Linked DNA regions of Homo sapiens: region 2 is linked to region 1. The links come from fine-mapping of genetic effects on plasma protein levels. A gene starts in region 1. The other region holds a variant in brackets. All regions are shown on one strand. Distances are from middle to middle.

Evidence for each region. A credible set is the group of variants that fine-mapping cannot tell apart. PIP is the posterior inclusion probability: the model's chance that the variant is causal. Protein levels are from antibody-based Olink assays in UK Biobank. Linkage for the fine-mapping came from a reference panel and not from the study's own genotypes, which makes the PIPs less certain.
Region 2: its variant is the best candidate, but not a certain one, in a credible set for the plasma level of the CKAP4 protein (UK Biobank, PIP 0.68).

Annotation. Positions count from the first base shown.
Region 1 is chr12:106,243,362-106,252,946 of GRCh38, forward strand. It overlaps CKAP4 (cytoskeleton associated protein 4), which reads right to left and starts at 4,659. Exons shown (of 2, transcript NM_006825.4): 1 at 4,008-4,659. The coding sequence starts at 4,490. LOC124903008 (a long non-coding RNA gene) reads left to right here and starts at 4,911. Exons shown (of 2, transcript XR_007063443.1): 1 at 4,911-5,398; 2 at 6,310-9,426. RefSeq lists silencers at 3,805-3,894, 4,555-4,864, 4,895-5,234.
Region 2 is chr12:106,393,368-106,402,952 of GRCh38, forward strand. The region is part of intron 10 of POLR3B (RNA polymerase III subunit B); the gene reads left to right. Among named protein-coding and RNA genes, the nearest start is that of POLR3B, 40 kb to the left of the region's middle. RefSeq lists enhancers at 4,286-4,787, 4,788-5,287. The variant A/G (reference allele first, on the strand shown) is at 3,993.

The DNA of each region.
Region 1 (9,585 bases):
CTCAGGCAGGGGCACTGACTTCAAAGTGCCCTGAGTACCTGGAAGAGAGACTGCCAACTCCTGAAGCCCTGACTCCTTAGCCAGAGAATCTAGACAAGAAAACAAAGAAATATGACCAGGGAGCTCACTCTTCCACAAATAGGTCCTAGTCTCATTAAACTGTCCCTACCAGGCCTAAGCCTACTCCTACCATTGCTTTATATCACGCTGGATCTGCCAGGGCAACACAGGCTCTTCAGAGGGCCTAGAGATGAACTGCCAACACTTTCTGAAGCCCAGGACCCACTTGTGCCTGCTGAATCCTCTGGGTAAGGACAGGCCTGCCTCTCTGCCTGTGCTACAGTCATTCAGAAGATTTGAGCCATTCTCCAATAACAAGAACATCTGGAGAACAAGAGACAGGTGGGCACCCAACTCCAGCTACACAACTTATGGTCTGTGTGTGACCTTGAATGAGTTACACAGCCAGTCCTCAGCTGCCCCATCTGCAAAATGGTACTACTAAATGATACCTGCCTCAGAGGGTGGCTGGGAGAACAGAAATCATGGCTATAAAGCATTTAATAGCATGGCTGACCCATAGTGAACAGTAATTATGAATACTGTAAGTATACTTCCCTGCTATGAACCAAACTCCACCCCCCAACAAGTAACCAAGAGTTATAAAAGGGTTCAAACTTAGGCTGTCAGAGAACCAAACACAACTGGTTCCTCAATGCAAAATAATTTATTTACTGGCCACCCCAAAGATACAGACAGAGTGGCCACATTCTATGGCAAATCTAACACTGTTCTGGCCATGTTCTGAGTCTCAAGTCAATGGAACATTTATTGGGCACCTACTATGTACTAGGCTAAATAGTGGAGTGGTTAATAGTGTTCCAGGAGTTAGACAACAGTTTGGATCCTAGCCCAGCCACTAACTAGCTATATCACCGCTCAGTTACTTAGCCTCTCACTTTTCTCATCTGTCAAAGAGGGCTGATAATAGTACTTACCTCTTGGGGTTGTTGTGAGAGTCAGCAGATGATGCATTTTCAAATGCTTTGCATAGTGCCTGGCACGTAATAAGTGCACCATAAATATGACACATTAAATTATAGTTTGATTACACTACTAAATTAAAAGAAAAGTGGTCAGCCAGGCGCAGTGGCTCACATCTGTAATCCCAGCACTTTGAGAGGCCAAGGCAGGAGGACTGCTTGAGCCCAGGAGTTTGAGACCAGCCTGAGCAACACAGCAAGACCCTGTCTCTACCAAAAATTTTAAAAATAAATAAATAGCTGGACGTGCTTGTGCATGCCTGTGGTCCCAGCTACTTGTGAGGCTGAGGCAAGAGGAACACTTGAGGCCAGGAGTTCAAGGCTGCAGTGAGCTATGATCACACCACTACGCTCCAGCCTGGTGACAGAGTGAGACCCTGTCTCTACGAAATATAAAATATGAAATAAAAAACAGAGAAGTCACTATTTCAATTATTTTAGAGCCATGAGGATTCTTAAAAGTCTGGATGGAGCCCTCTTCTCATTGTGTGGGTGGGAAAACTGAGCCCCAAAGAAGAAAGTGATCTATATACATAGCTGTGATGGAGAAGGGGTGAGAAGCAAAAAGAAGGGACTAAGTGAGGGGCAGGGAGAAGCACAGAGAATTAACCTGGATTCAAGACCTTCCCTATTTTGGCCTCAACTTCCAACCCACCCTCTCTCACAATTTCCTACATGTGACTCTGCCATTGGCAGGGTAGCCACCTCCTCTCTCTCAAACATGCTCAAAATAGTGCCCCTGCCACGGTGTTCATCACAGTCCTTCTCTCAACATTTATCGATCACCAGCTAGATGGCTGGCACTACCCTGGCCACCGGGATACAGGCGAAATTCCACACCCTCCCTCTTCTGAACTTTCACAGGAGTTACCCTCAACTGACACCTCCTTATGCGCTGCACAAGTGATTCGTGTCTTTTGCTCCTTCATACCCTCCCACAAAGCCTACACAGAGCCATGCAACTGTCAGACTTTAATAAATATTATGATTGACTAGTAAGTAGGAGGATGAAAGAGAAGAAACAGAGGCTAGTCATTATACTCCAGCAGTATGTCTATTTTTTAAGAATGGTTTGACATTCAGGATAGGCAAAGCAGCACTGCCTACTTAATTCCCTTAGAAAAGTCACCTCCCTTGGCCTGCAGCGTTTAGCAGGCTGACTCATTCCAGTTGCTCTGCCAGTCTTTTTTTTTTTTTTTTTTTTTTTTGAGACGGAGTCTCACTCTGTTGCCCCGGCTGGGGTGCACTGGCAGGATTTCCGCTCACTGCAACCTCCACCTCCCGGGTTCAAGCAATTCTCCTGCCTCAACCTCCTGAGTAGCTGGGACTACAGGCATGTGCCACCACACCCCGCTAATTTTTGTATTTTTAGTAGACACAGGGTTTCACCATGTTGGCCAGGCTGCTCTCAAACTTCTGACCTCAGGTGATCCGCCCGCCTCGGCCTCCTACAGTGCCGGGATTACAGGCGTGAGCCACCACGCCCGGCCGTGCTCTGCCAGTCTTAAGAGGAAATTCCTGGTCCTGCACACTCAACAAAAGCAGAGAGCAACTTGGCAGGACAGACAGCATGCTGGGAAAAGGAGGCAGTGGCTCCGGGATCAGAAGTGGCGGGATTTTTTGTTTCAGTCTTGCAACCAACTTTCATTGAGCAATGACATAGTGGAGGGCGAATAAGATCAAAGGGGCTGTACTTGGTATGGAAAAACCACAGAAGGGTGGAAGCTAAGCACCTTCGCCTTGAGAGTTGGGTCCATCCATACCTGAAATGGACCCCTGTGGACCCTTGACGAACAGGGCAGTGGCCTAGACATTCTCGTGTGTCTGTCACTCACCAGCTGGGGACTTTGTCAACTCATTCCTCTGTCTAAACCTCAATGTTCTGCTCTGGGAAATGAAATCAAAACTGTTAGTCCTCCCTCCCAGGGTAGTTATAAGAATTAGATAATATGTGAGTGAGTAAGCATTCTAAACACCATATAAATGTGGCTAGAAGTATTATTCACCAGTATGATCTAGTATTTTTGGCCCTCCTCTTCCCCTAAAGCGGAAGTAGGGCCGGGCGCAGTGGCTCACGCCTGTAATCCCAGCACTTTGGGAGGCCGAGGCAGGCGGATCACTTGAGGTCAGAAGTTCGAGACCAGCCTGGCCAATACGGTGAAACTTTGTCTCTACTACTAATAAAAAATTAGCTGGGTATGGTGGCACATGTCTGTAATCCCAGCTACTCAGGAGGCTGAGGCAGGAGAATCGCTGGAACCTGGGAGGCAGAGGTTGCAGTGAGCTGAGATCGTACCACTGCACTCCAGCCTGGGCGACAGAGCCAGACTCCCTCTCAAAAGAAAACCCAAAAAAGCTGAAGTAGGACTACGTCAAAGGCCCACCTGGGCAGGCTGGTCCAATACAGGACAAGGGACCTAAAGATAGATGGTATTTCATTTGGACCTGCAAATGAGTAAGAATGCCAGCTCCGGGTCTATTAAAAACCCCGCTCGGATGTCTCCCACAGGCAGAGCTGAGGTGGGGCCTTGCCTGAGGCTTCCAGGGATGCGCTGGCTTCCCTTCCAACCTCCTTTTCAGACAGCTCTGCCCATTCAGCGGTTCCTAATGCAGAAAGAATGGGCTCCCCGGAGCCTGCCGGCTTCCTTACAGGTCACCGCTAATGCCCTGTGACAGGCCCTTGGCCCACCCTGCCAGGCGGGCCTGGGCATCCTCGCGGCGGCCCATCCCTCGGGGCCGATTCCTCCGCAGCCATTAACAAAGGGGGTCTGGGGACTGCCTCGGAACTAGGGGGCCGCGTGGAGTGGGATGTCTAGGCCAGGGCCCGCCAAGGAGGAGCGGCCGGCTCCCGCCTCCGGGCCTGGGCAGGCAGCGCTAGGGGCCGGTCGGGAAGCACGAAGGAGCCCGGCCGTGGGTCCGGAGGCCGCAGTCGATGGGGACAGTTGCGGGGCCGGGGGTACCCACCTTCTGCTCGACGCCCTGCAAGCCCTGGCCCAGCTCCTCCCTCTGCCGGGAGAAGTCCTGGTGGCTGCGCCGGACCTGCTGGACCTCCTCCAGGACGTGGTGGACGCACCAGCCCGAGAAAGCGGCCGCCGCCACCAGGGCGAGGTAGAAGAGAAAGTTGAGCGCCCTGCCGAGCCTGCGCGAGCAGGACGCCGAGGACGAGGCGGCGGCGGCGGCAGCGGCGGCGGAGGCGGAGGAGGAGGAGGAGGACTTGCCGCCGCCGCCGCCGCCGCCGCGGTGGCCGCCCTTGCCGTGCGCCTGGTTCTGCGGGTGCTGCTGCGGGTGCTGCTGCGGGTGCGGCGCGGGCGGCGGCGGCGGCTGCTGCGGCGCCGGCGGCGGCTTCTTCGCCACGTCATCCGCGCCGCCCGACGGGTGGGCACCCTTCTCCGAGGGGCTCGCGGCGCCGTGGCCGCCCTTGGAGCCCCTTTGTTTGGCCGAGGGCATGGCGGGCGCGGCGGCGGCTCGGGCCGCGGGCTGGGAGGCGAGCGAGCGCGGCGCGCGGCCCGGGAAACTTGCAGGGGCTCCCCCGGGACTGGGCGAGCGGCACGCGGGCGCTGCTGGCGTCGGAGCGGCGAGAGGACGCGCGGCCGGGGAAGGAGGCCGGGCCGAGGAGGCGGGAGGAGGGGGCCTGCCTCCGCCGCCGCGGCGCCGACCCCGCCTCCCGGTAAGGGAGGCCGAGCGAGCCGAGCCGGGAGAGCTTGCCACGCACGCCGGCCCGGCGGCCCCTCCTCCCCGCCGCCACGACCCCGGAGAGGGAGGGCCGGGCGGGGTCTACGGGGGCCGGGAAGCCGGCGCGGGGGTGGCTGGGCGCGGGGCGGGGTCCCGGCGGGGTCTGCGGAGGCCGGGGTGGGCACCGAGGTGGCCGCGAGGGGAGGGGAGAAGAGCGGAGCGGAGGGGAGGGGACGCGGCCGAGGTGGGGCTGGCGGCCCGGCGGGTTCCACGCAGGCTGGGGGCGGAGGGCCAGATCGACCCCAGCCGGGGCGGCCGAGCAGGGTCCACGGGGGTCGGGGATGGGCGGCCAGGCGGGGTCGGAGGGACGAAAGCCGGGGTGAACCTGCGCCGCGGGCCAAGCGCGACCCCCTCCCTTCCCGACCTGTGCGGAGAGGAGAGAAATGAAGGGGGGCGCCCAAGGAGCCCTGGCCCCGGGAGTGGGAGTCAGCGGGTGGGAACAGATCGCCCTTCCTTTCCGCTGGGAATTGGGGGACTCCCCCTGCTTTCACTCTCCCAGCCCGCCATGGGGTTGGGCCTTGTCCTTTGCCTTGGGTTTGAAGGCGGAGACAAAAAAGGCTGTCCAAAATCCAGCCAGCTTGGGAGGCATGGTTGATGCGAGTTAGCAAAGATTCTCGACTGTGGTAAGTCTGTTCAAGGGGACGCATTCACCAAGTGTCCCCGTTAGCCAAGTTAGCCTGCTGTGGCCAGCTCTTTACTTTTTCCCCCCGAAGCCCCTTCAGCTCTGTTTTCTCTTTCGGGGTCATGAAGTTTGTCCACGGCCCCTACTCCTGACAGCCTCTGGGATGGGTGCTGCGGAGGCAGCAGCAGCCACACAGAAAGAGGCAGATCAGCGTTGTCACCCCTACTTTTGTAAAAGGAAATCTGGTATTGCCAGGCTGTGTGGTTAGCGACTCACATATGTTCTCGAAATCTCACAAAAGCCCTGTGAGGTAGAAATTATTTTACCCATTTTATAGGAAGGAAATTGAGACTGAGCGAGCCGGCTTCGGATTGGCTCAAGGTCACATATAGTCATCATTCGAACCTCACTCAGTCTGCTTCTTTCTGAAGTCTGTGCAGCTTAATCACTTCAGAATGGGAAGGAAACGGGGGCCCAGGGAAGTTAAGCAACTTGCCCACTCACTCAGTCTAATTGGTGCCGGGGCAGGGACAGAACTCACTCAATTCCACTGCTTTCCCCAGTTTCTGGTGAGTGATGTGTGCCTGGCACTGTGTGCACCTGGCACTGTGTGTAGTAGGAATGCTGTTTCTTCTGTCTGTAACCTCCTCCCAGTTCTGTAAACAAAGACAAAACCATGCCCTGCCCTTAAAGCCTATAGGGTTCAAATGCCACCTCTTTGATGATGCTTTCCCTATAACACCATTTGATACCTCTCATGGGACTTAGCAAGTAATTGCAACGAGAGGCATATATGTTAGTTCAATATAGCAAACCTTTGTTGAGGGCCCACTGTGTGCCAGGTATGTCTCCCCTCCCTGAGGACTGGAAGCAACCATAGTTTATATTTCTCCTTCTTTCTCGCTTTATAAGGTGTTGCTAAAAGCCTCCAGTGAATGAATGAACACTTGTGTGCCTGCCCTCAAGGAGCCTGCACTACACTTGGAGATATATACAGAAACCTGTTGAGGGCTAACTTAGGTAAATTGGGAACATAAATGTAAAGAGATTTGGAAAGCAAACCATTGGCCTGTACATGGGCAGGCTTTGGGGGCAGAAAGACCTTGAGCAGTGCCTTGAAGAATGATTTGCATATGAGGAGAGCAGGGAGGATATTTCTGTGGCGGAAATGGGGTGAGCCCAGGACACCTGTTGGCCATGAGGGTGTGTTCTACATGTAGAGAAGAAAGAGATGAACTGGGTGGAGCGGGTCCAGATTGCAGAAGGCTATAGAAGCCAAGCTGGCAGATAGAAGAATCGCTATTAGTGTGGGAGGACAGAGTAAATTATAGCAGGTTCTGGACTAGAAATACAACCATCTGCCCCAGACAGAGAGGAACACCCTACTTCAGCTAAATACCAGGAGCTATTGTAGGAGCCTCTAGGTTCAACAGGGCACAGGTCTCTGACCTGTGGCGCGGGGAGACAGCAGAAGAAATCAGAAGACACTCATCACAGGAACCTTGTTTAAAAACTATTCAGCTGAGTTCGGGTTGTGTTGTTAAAATCTCTAGCGCGCAAAAAGAGGTTATCCCCCTTCAAGCAGTTCTCCATGTTAGGGGCAGAGGCAGTGATAACTGGTAAAGCAGCTTGCTGCCAAGATCTGGCCTTGAAAGCAAGAGCCCTACTCCTTTAGTGCTACCAAAGTGTGTGACCTTGAGAAGTATCCCTAAACTCCTCTAGATTTCAGGGTCACCCTTTCTGTAAGGTGCATCTTTAAGGACCTGTCTTATTATTAATCCGTTTCTTAGAGAAATAGTCATCTGATCCTTATCAAAAATAATTAAATGATATTTAAATTTTTAAAAATTGATCCAGGCCAAGTACAGTGCCTCACACCTGTAATCCCAACGCTATGGGAGGCCAAGGCAGGAAGATCACTTGAGGCCAGGAGTTCAAGACCAGCCTAGATAACAGCAAGACCCTGACTCCACCAAAAAAAATTTAGCTGGATGTGGTGGCACTCAGGAGGCTGAGACAGGAGGATCGCTTGAGCCTGGGAGTTCAAGGTTATAGTGAGCTATGATGGCACCACTGTACTCCAGCCTGGGCAACAGAGCAAGACCCTGTCTCAGGAAAAAAAAAAAAGCAGACTGTAGGCCAGATATGAGAATGGACGGTTTCTCAATTTTTACCTCTACTGAGCACTGAATGAATGAATAGAGAGTAGGACGATGGGACTGTTAATATTTTCAGCATTTCCCTCTCATTCTTTTCCTCTGGGAGATAGTACATACAATGGTTAAGACACAGGCTATAGAATAGACTGACTTGGGTTCAAATTCAGCTCCATGACTGACTTTGGAGTGTGACCTCTCTGAACCTCAGTATCTTCAGCTATAAGACAGGAGTAATTGCTACCTCACTAGGCCAGGTGTGGTGGCTCACACCTATAATCCCAGTACTTGGGGAGGCCGAGGCAGATGGACTGCTTGAGCCCAAGAGTTCAAAACAAGCCTGGGCAACAAGGCAAAACCCTGTCCCTACAAAAAATACAAAAAAAAATTATCCAGGCATGGTGGAGTGTGACTGTAGTCCCAGCTACTTGGGGAGCTGAGGTGAGAGGATCACTTGGGCCTGGAAAGTCAAGGCTGCAGTGAGCCCTGTTCACCATTGCACTCCACCCAAAAAAAAAGAACAACCTTGCTGTTATGCGGATTAGACAAGAGACACCATATGATACTGGGCATATGGCAATGCTCAGTGAATATTGGACAGCTAATACAATTTGCAGAGTCACTGAGGAAAAGTATAGCTTCAGAGAGCTTCTGTGTCCAGATTTCAACGATTTTCTTTCATCATTATTTCGTGGGGCTCCCAGGACCATATGTGGCTCACAAACCACAGGCTAGGATGTGTTTAACGTTAAAAGCAAGCAGTGTGTTTCTCTGAAGTGTGGCTCCACCATGGTGTTCGGTTACACCCAGAGGAGGAGGCTGGTGGGCAGTCATAGAAGTGCATCTTCCAGAGCAGGAAGGGATCAACAGCTCTTCCTGGAGACTTCCATTCTCCTACCCCAGTTTCTGAGCACAGCATGAATCTAGAGGAGTTTCTCTTCTGCTTTTCCTCCTAGTTTTGTTTCCTCTATCCCTTTTCCTTGCTAAAGTGTGTTGGATGGTCAGGAATGTGGGCGGAGAAGAGGGGGAGCTGGAGACATCTCATCCTTTCATCCAGCTTGTGTAAAAATGCCTCAGAACTCCCTCATACCACATGCACCATAAATTATAAGGTCAAGCTTTGTAAGCCTGCAGCCCTCTTGGCTTTTTGCATGTTGGTTAGAATGCCTAAATAGAAAGCCTCTGTTAATGTTGATTGCCTCTTGTCTGTTCCAGGTTGGCAAGGCCCCCAGTGGCCAAGGCATGAGCCTGGATGCCCTGCAAATTGAGTACGTGTTAGGGATGGGGGCCATTCTTTATAGTTTGACTCTGGAGAGCTAGGACCACCTTTCCCAGCCTCAGGGGTGCACATCCTCAGGAGCTGCCTACCTCCAGATATTGTAAGTCCATGCAGAAGAGGAAGGGCCCAGCTGGGGCACCTCTTGGTTGAGGAATGAGTATGTGACATTTTCATGTGGGCACATTTTGATACTACTTTAAAAATAGACCAAGCACAGTGGCTCACACCTGTAATTCCAGCACTTCGGGACGCTGAGAGAGGTGGATCACCTGAGGTCAGGAGTTCGAGATCAGCCTGGCCAACATGGAGAAACCCCGCCTCTACTAAAAATACAAAACATTAGCTGGGTGTGGTGGCACACACCTGTAATTCCAGCTACTCGGGAGGCAGAAGCAGGAGAATCGCTTGAATCCAGGAGGCGGAGGTTGCAGTAAGCCGAGATCACGCCACTACACTCCAGCTTACACTGGACATGATGAGGAGGAGGAGGATGATGGTGGTGATTATGATAGAAATGGTGATGGTGATGATGACAATGGTGATAGTAGGGATGGTCTTGCTCTGTCGCAATCAATAAATGAATGCATAAACACATTTCTACTTGTTTTTGCAGTCCTAAGATAAGTGCTCAGTAGCATCCCTGCCCTTCTAATGTGAACTTGAGGGATGGGTAAGACCCAGAGATGGCATGGGGGACGGGATAAGGAAGGCCTACTGTTCATATTGTGAACATGAAATGGTTTTACATTTTGA
Region 2 (9,585 bases), 150 kb after region 1:
AGAATAGGGGATATATGGCGAAGAGGTGTTTGTTTTGATATAATAGGAAGTACTGTTTTTTTTTCCTTATTTGCCTGAGTGATAATATACTTTTTAAACTATGGCAACTCTCGTGTACAGGTTTTGTGTGTGTGTGTGTGTGTGTGTGTGTGTGTGTGTGTGTATGTGTGCATGCATTTCTCTTTAATATCTTTTTTTATTCCCTACTTCAGTTGCTTTAGGCATCCAGTTGTATGTGGTTTCTATTTCTTTTCCTGAATTCCCAGTGCTGCTTTGGACAGCAAGGAAAACCCAGGATCAGTCCCTTTTACTGCTGCAGAGCCTTCATTGACCTGCTCAGGCACTCCTGGTTGGACCCTGGGAATTTTAGGGCAAGACTCAAAGATGAAGACTGAGAAATACACACACACACACACACACACACACACACACACACACCCCATAGTAAAAATAATTGCACTTCCCTTCCCACATGGAGGGAGCCCCAGCAGCCATACTTAGGATTTTAGTCCCATATTTGCAAGTGCTTTCCTAAGTATAAATCAAAGTTAACATCCCTCATAGCCATCCTGGGAGGTGGGAATTCCCCACTATAGAATCACAACAGACAGTTCTTACCTATCCACGTGTACATTGTCTATTCTGTGGGTTATGTATGACATATGTAAACTCTGGGCTGCTTTTTTCTCTTCACCCAGGATGCTTGTAGAGAAAGCATTTCCCACTTATATCTGTTAGTGTGTATTCTGAAATCAAATCAGTATTGATATTTTTGTAGACTACACTAGATATTTAGGAAGATCGAAATAGGTCAGTATATATATATAATTCCAAAGCACAAATCAGTAAGGATTATTCTCATCACCGTCTTCCTCTTTTTCTACAGTTAATTAATAGTTGACTGCAGTTACAGGGCAGGCAGCACCAGGAAGGGTGGTTTGGATTTAGGAGATTCTATTTTTGGCCTTTATCAAAAATGAAATATTTGGTAGGCATGAATCTTTGTTGTACACTAAAGTTACATTGTCCAAGGGTTCCAAGAACATGAAGAGAAAACATTAAGAAATATCAAGGAGGCAGAAAATGTAGAATCTACCCTGCAAACAGGAATATTTGGTTCCATTTTGGGAGATACCCTATTCTTTAATGCTGTGTAGTGCCCTACAAGTTTACCTTAATGGTTCCTCAGTGGCTTCAGTGAAATCCGGTATGCAGTTTATTTCAAACATCATCATTGGGGTCAAATAACCCTAGCATTGTAAAGCTGTTTGAGCAGAGCCCAAACAGTAGGTTGGAAAATCATTCATTTATTTCTGTTAAATAGGTTCTGACAGAAAATGTCAGCTAACTAAATTAGATCAGATTAGTGAGAAGATGGCAGGAAAAGATGGAAGGAAGTTAACATAAGAAAGACAAATGTTCCTTTTCCTCGAAAGGGAAGTATAACTTTGACAGTGCTCGTACTCTGTGTGCAGGATTAAGGCACATATTAGCTATTGAAACTAATAAAAGGATATAGAGATGCAAATAACCCAAAATAGTTGGTATGTAGAACATATATTAACAGTTACGAAAACATGAATATTCTATGCTATTCAAAATGAAGATGTAGTAAGTACACTTTATATTAGTCTGTTCTCACATTGCTATAAAGAAACACCGAATCAGCCTGGACCACATGATAAGACCCCATCTCTACAAACAATAAAAATAAATTAGCCAGGCGTGGTGGCAGGCACCAGTGGTCTCAGCTGCTTGGGAGGCTGAGGCAGGAGGATCACTTGAGCCTGAGAGGTCAAGGCTGCAGTGACCCATGATTGTGCCACCCCAGCCTGTGTGACAGAGTAAGACCTTTCCTCAAAAAAAGAAATACCTGAGACTGGGTAATTTATAAAGAAAAGAGGTTTAATTGGCTCATGGTTTTGCAGCCTGTACAGGAACCAAAACCTGCTTCTGGGGAGGCCTCAAGAAGCTTCCAATCATGGCAGAAGGCAAAGGAGGGGGCAAGGTGTCTCATATAGTGGGAGTGAGAGCAAGAGAGCGTGAGGGAGGAGGGGGTGCCACACACTTTTAAACAACCAGATTGGGAAAACTCACTATCAGGAGGACAGCACCAAGGTGATGGTGCTAAATCAGACATGAGAAATCCATCCCCATGATCCAGCCACCACCCACCAGGCCCCACCTCCAACAATGGGCACTACAATTTGACGTGAGGTTTGGTAGGGACACAGATCCAAACCATATCACACTTTATTTTATATAATAGAACTTTGGAAGATGTGGCACTTTAATGGATTGCTTAAAACCTGTGGGGTTTTGTTTTTTTGGCCAGGCATGGTGGCTTATGCCTGTAATCCAGAGGCCGAGGTGGGTGGATCATTTGAGGTCAGGAGTTCAAGACCCAGCCTGGCCAACATGGTGAAACCCCGCCTCTACTAGAAATACAAAAATTAGCCGGGCGTGGTGGTGGGTGCCTGTAATCCCAGCTACTCGGGAGGCTGAATCAGGAGAATCGCTTGAACCCAGGAGGCGGAGGTTGCAGTGAGCCAAGATCGCGCCACTGCACTCCAGCCTGGGTGACAGAGTGAGACTCCGTTTTTTATGCCTCGCTTTGTAGTCTCTCTCACATTTCTTCTGTTCCCTGAAGCCTTCTTTCTGTGTTGGTCATGTATGTTTTACACCATCATTGTCTTGGGCTCTAGTATATAGAGAAGAAAGTACTAGCTGTAGCGGGGGATAGGAGGCACTAGGCATGTTATCTTGGCCTTTGCATCACAAGGGATACCCTGCTCACCTGTGTTCCTCTATTTCTCCCTCAAACAAGTGAAAAATTTTAGCCTTTTTCACAAGGAAACTAGAAGGCCAACATTTATTGAAGACAGCTTAGTTGGGGGAAAACTGAACTGCCTATCTACTCATGGTTCCTGCCAACTGACCTGCTTTCTTCAGTTACTTAGTTACTACTTACTACTAGGTCACTGCAGCAAGTGTTTTCAGGGTTTTAATTTATCTTAAACTTTAATGGCCTTTTAATGGGAAAGATTTAGATTTGAAGTCCAAATCTTATCATGGGGACAGAGTTTCATTCAATTCCAAACACTGTACTAATCACTGGGAGTCAAAGAAAAAGATGACGGAATTCCCACCAACCAAGTCTAGTAGGAAAAACATACATGTAAATAGATCATTAAAACATAATGTGATATGAACAAGAATTAAAATATGCAATCCTGAATGCATAAAGAATTAAAACTGCAGAGAAAGAGGAGTGGGGTTAGGAAAGCCTTCGGAGAGGAAGTGATACCTGATCTAGGTTTTGAAGCATGAAAAAGGAATTCCCCAAGCAGGTAATTGGACAGGAATTCCAAGTTAAAGAATCAAAGATCCCAGCCTTTTCTTCTGTTAAGCTGAAAGTCTTTTTTTTTTTAAGTTCATTCTTGGCCAGGCATAGTAGGTCACACCTGTTATACTGCCACTTTGGGAGGCCCAGGCAGGAAGATCATTTGAGGCCAAGAGTTGGAGACCAGCCTAGGCAACATAGTGAGACCCTGTTTCTACCAAAGGTTTTGTTGTTGTTGTTGTTGTTGTTGTCGTTGTTTTAATTAGCTGGGCATGGTGGCGTGTGCCTGTAGTTCTGCTACTTGGGAGGCTGAGTGAGGTGGGAGGATTGCCTGAGCCTAGGAGATTGAGGCTGCAGTGAGCTGACATCACACCACTGTACTCCAGCCTGGGCAACAGAGTGAGACCCTGTCTCAAAAAAAAAAAAAAGCACATTGTTGTTCCAAAATAATAAGAACCACATATGCCTCTTCTTTAAACATTGTTGATTAGGAAAAATTTCAACATATACAAAGTACAGAGAATAGTGTTATAAATGCTCATGTATCCAAGGCCTACCTTCAAAAGTTGTCAACACTCTTACTTGGTTATTTTAAGTAAATTTATGTACACTAAAATGTACAAATCTTAATTGTATGACTTTACAAGAT[A/G]TAGAATATTTCCTTATCCCACAGAGTTCCCCCTCATGCCCCTTCCTAGTCAATCTTTACCTCTACTCTCTGATTTTTTTCCCCACTATTCTGATTTTTGCACCGTAGATTAGTTTTGCCAATTACAGAACTTTATATATGGAATTAGGCATCATAGTTTAGTGATTTTTGCACCATAGATTAGTTTTACCTATTTTACAGCATTGTGTATGGAATTAGGCCATATATACTCTTTTGTGTCTAGCTTTTGCTGAGCTTATTGTCTAAGATTCATCCAAGTTATTTCTTTTCATTCCTTTTTATGTCAGTTATCCATGTAGTTCATTTCTTTTTATTGCTGAGTAGTATTTCGTTATATGAATATACCACAGTTTATCCTATTGATAGACACTTGGTGTTTCAGTCTTTAGTAATTATAAATAAGACTGTATAAGCAAATCTTTGTGTGGATGTGTGGACATTTTCATTTCTCATGAATGTGTACCTAAGAATAGAATTGCTGTTAAGGAGCCAAGATGGCCAAATAGGAACAGCTCCGGTCTACAGCTACCAGCGTGAACGACGCACTAAGACGGGTGATTTCTGCCTTTCCAACTGAGATACCGGGTTCATCTCACTGGGGTGTGCCAGACAGTGGGTGCAGCGCACCGTGCGTGAGCCAAAGCAGGGCGACGCATCACCTCACCCAGGAAGCACAAGGGGTCAGGGAATTCCCTTTCCTAGTCAAAGAAAGGGGTGACAGACGGCACCTGGAAAATCGGGTCACTCCCACCCTAATACTGCACTTTCCCAACGGGCTTAAGAAACGGCACACCAGGAGATTATATCCCGCACATGACTCGGAGGGTCCTATGCCCACGGAGTCTCGCTCATTGCTAGCACAGCAGTCTGAGATCAAACTGCAAGGCGGCAGCGAGGCTGGGGGAGGGGCGCCCACCATTGCCGAGACTTGATTAGGTAAACAAAGCGGCTGGGAAGCTCGAACTGGGTGGAGCCCACCACAGCTCAAGGAGGCCTGCCTGCCTCTGTAGGCTCCACCTCTGGGGGCAGGGCACAGACAAACAAAAAGACAGCAGTAACCTCTGCAGACTTAAATGTCCCTCTCTGACAGCTTTGAAGAGAGTAGTGGTTCTCCCAGCATGCAGCTTGAGATCTGAGAATGGGCAGACTGCCTCCTCAAGTGGTTCCCTGACCCCCGAATAGCCTAACTGGGAGGCACCCCCCAGTAGGGGCGGACTGACACCTCACACGGCCAGGTACTCCTCTGAGACAAAACTTCCAGAGGAACGATCAGGCAGCAGCATTTGCGGTTCACCAGTACCTGCTGTTCTGCAGCCACCATTGCTGACACCCAGGCAAACAGGGTCTGGAGTGGACCTCTAGCAAACTCCAACAGACCTGCAGCTGAGGGTACTGTCTGTTAGAAGGAAAACTAACAAACAGGAAGGACATCCACATCAAAAACCCATCTGTACGTCACCATCATCAAAGACCAAAGGTAGATGAAACCACAAAGATGGGGAAAAAACAGAGCAGAAAAACTGGAAACTCTAAAAATCACAGCACCTCTCCTCCTCCAAAGGAACGCAGCTCCTCACCAGCAACAGAACAAAGCTGAACGGAGAATGACTTTGACGAGTTGAGAAAAGAAGGCTTCACACGATCAAACTACTCCAAGCTGCAGGAGGAAGTTCGAACCAATGGCAAAGAAGTTAAAAACTGAAAAAAAATTAAATGAATGGCTAACTAGAATAACCAATGCAGAGAAGTCCTTAAAGGACCTGATGGACCTGAAAACCAAGGCACGAGAACTATGTGACGAATGCAGAAGCCTCAGTAGCCGATGCAACTGGAAGAAAGGCTATCAGTGATGGAAGACGAAATGAATGAAATAAAGCAAGAAGAGAAGTTTAGAGAAAAAAGAATGAAAAGAAACGAACAAAGCCTCCAAGAAATATGGGACTATATGAAAAGACCAAATGTAGGTCTGATTGGTGTACCTGAAAGTGACAGGGAGAATGGAACCAAGTTGGAAAACACTCTGCAGGATATTATCCAGGAGAACTTCCCCAATCTAGCAAGGCAGGCCAACATTCAAATTCAGGAAATACAGAGAATGCCACAAAGATACTCCTTGAGAAGAGCAACTCCAAGACGCATAATTGTCAGATTCACCAAAGTTGAAATGAAAGAAAAAATGTTAAGGGCAGCCAGGGAGAAAGATCGGGTTACCCACAAAGGGAAGCCCATCAGACTAACAGCGGATCTCTCAGCAGAAACTCTACAAGCCAGAAGAGAGTGGGGGCCAATATTCAACATTCTCAAAGAAAAGAATTTTCAACCCAGAATTTCATATCCAGCCAAACTAAGCTTCATAAGTGAAGGAGAAATAAAATACTTTACAGACAAGCAAATGCTGAGAGACTTTGTCACCACCAGGCCTGCCCTAAAAGAGCTCCTGAAGGAAGCACTAAACTTGGAAAGGAACAACCGGTAACTGGTACCAGCCACTACAAAAACATGCCAAATTGTAAAGACTGTCAAGGCTAGGAAGAAACTGCATCAACTAACAAGCAAAATAGCCAGCTGACATCATAATGACAGATCAAATTCACACATAACGATATTAACTTTGAATGTAAATGGGCTAAATGCTCCAATTAAAAGACACAGACTGGCAAATTGGATAAAGAGTCAAGACCCATCAGTGTGCTGTATTCAGGAAACCCATCTAAGGTGCAGAGACACACATAGGCTCAAAATAAAGGGATGGAGGAAGATCTGCCAAGCAAATGGAAAACAGAAAAAGGCAGGGGTTGCAATCCTAGTCTCTGATAAAACAGACTTTAAACCAACAAAGATCAAAAGAGACAAAGAAGGCCATTACATAATGGTAAAGGGATCAATTCAACAAGAAGAGCTAACTATCCTAAATATATATGCACCCAATATAGGAGCACCCAGATTCATAAAGCAAGTCCTTAGTGACCTAGAAAGAGACTTAGACTCCCACACAATAATAATGGGAGACTTTAACACCCCACTGTCAACATTAGACAGATCAACGAGACTGAAAGTTAACCAGGAATTGAACTCGACTCTGCACCAAGTGGACCTAATAGACATCTACAGAACTCTCCACCCCAAATCAACAGAATATACATTCTTTTCAGCACCACACCACACCTATTCCAAAATTGACCACATAGTTGGAAGTAAAGCACTCTTCAGCAAATGTAAAAGAACAGAAATTATAACAAACTGTCTCTCAGACCACAGTGGAATCAAACTAGAACTCAGGATTAAGAAACTCACTCAAAACCGCTCAACTACATGGAAACTGAACAACCTGCTCCTGAATGACTACTGGGTACATAATGAAATGAAGGCAGAAATAAAGATGGTCTTTGAAACCAATGAGAACAAAGACACAACATACCAGAATCTCTGGGACACATTCAAAGCAGTGTGTAGAGGGAAATTTATAGCACTAAATGCCCACTAGAGAAAGCAGGAAAGATCTAAAATTGACACCCTAACATCACAATTAAAAGAACTAGAAAAGCAAGAGCAAACACATTCAAAATCTAGCAGAAGGCAAGATATAACTAATATCAGAGCAGAACTGAAGGAAATAGAGACACAAAAAACCCTTCAAAAACTCAATGAATCCAGCAGCTGGTTTTTTGAAAAGATTAACAAAATTGATAGACTGCTAGCAAGACTAATAAAGAATAAAAGAGAAGAATCAAATAGACGCAATAAAAAGTGATAAAGGGGATATCACCAGCGATCCCACAGAAATACAAACTACCATCAGAGAATACTATAAACATGTCTATGCAAATAAACTAGAAAATCTAGAAGAAATGGATAAACTCCTCGATACATACATCCTCCCAAGACTAAACCAGGAAAAAGTTGAATCTCTGAATAGACCAATAACAGGCTCTGAAATTGAGGCAATAATCAATAGCTTACCAACTAAAAAAAGTCCAGGACCAGATGGATTCTACCAGAGGTACAAGGAGGAGCTGGTACCATTCCTTCTGAAACTGTTCCAATCAATAGAAAAAGAGGGAATCCTCCCTAACTCATTTTATGAGGCCAGCATCATCCTGATACCAAAGCCTGGCAGAGCCAAAACAAAAAAAGAGAATTTTAGACCAATATCCTTGATGAACATTGATGCAAAAATCCTCATTAAAATACTGGCAAACCGAATCCAGCAGCACATCAAAAAGCTTATCCACCATGATCAAGTGGACTTCATCCCTGGGATGCAAGGCTGGTTCAACATACACAAATCAATAAATGTAATCCAGCATATAAACAGAACCAACGACAAAAACCACATGATTATCTCAATAGATGCGGAAAAGGCCTTTGACAAAATTCAACAACCTTCATGCTAAAAACTCTCAATAAATTAGGTATTGATGGGACATATCTCAAAATAATAAGAGCTATCTATGACAAACCCACAGCCAATATCATACTGAATGGGCAAAAACTGGAAGCATTCCCTTTGAAAACTGGCACAGGACAGGGATGCCCTCTCTCACCACTCCTATTCAACATAGTGTTGGAAGTTCTGGCCAGGGCAATCAGGCAGTTGAAGGAAATAAAGAGTATTCAATTAGGAAAAGAGGAAGTCAAATTGTCCCTGTTTGCAGATGACATGATTGTATATCTAGAAAACCCCATCGTCTCAGCCCAAAATCTCCTTAAGCTGATAAGCAACTTCAGCAAAGTCTCAGGATACAAAATCAATGTGCAAAAATCACAAGCATTCTTATACACCAATAACAGACAAACAGAGCCAAATCATGAGTGAACTCCCATTCACAATTGCTTCAAAGAGAATAAAATACCTAGGAATCCAACTTACAAGGGATGTGAAGGACCTCTTCAAGGAGAACTACAAACCACTGCTCAATGAAATAAAAGAGGATACAAACAAATGGAAGAACATTTCATGCTCATGGGTAGGAAGAATCAATATCGTGAAAATGGCCATACTGCCCAAGGTAATTTATAGATTCAATGCCATCCCCATCAAGCTACCAGTGACTTTCTTCACAGAATTGGAAAAAACTACTTTAAAGTTCATATGGAACCAAAAAAGAGCCCGCATCGCCAAGTCAATTCTAAGCCCAAAGAACAAAGCTGGAGGCATCACGCTACCTGACTTCAAACTACCACAAGTCTACAGTAACCAAAACAGCATGGTACTGGTACCAAAACAGAAATATCGACCAATGGAACAGAACAGAGCCCTCAGAAATAATGCCACATATCTACAACTATCTGATCTTTGACAAACCTGACAAAAACAAGAAATGGGGAAAGGATTCCCTATTTAATAAACGGTGCTGGGAAAACTGGCTAGCCATACGTAGAAAGCTGAAACTGGATCCCTTCCTTACACCTTATACAAAAATTAATTCCAGATGGATTAAAGACTTACATGTTAGACCTAAAACCATAAAAACCCTAGAAGAAAACCTAGGCAATACCATTCAGGACATAGGCATGGGCAGGGACTTCATGTCTAAAACACCAAAAGCAATGGCAACAACAGCCAAAATTG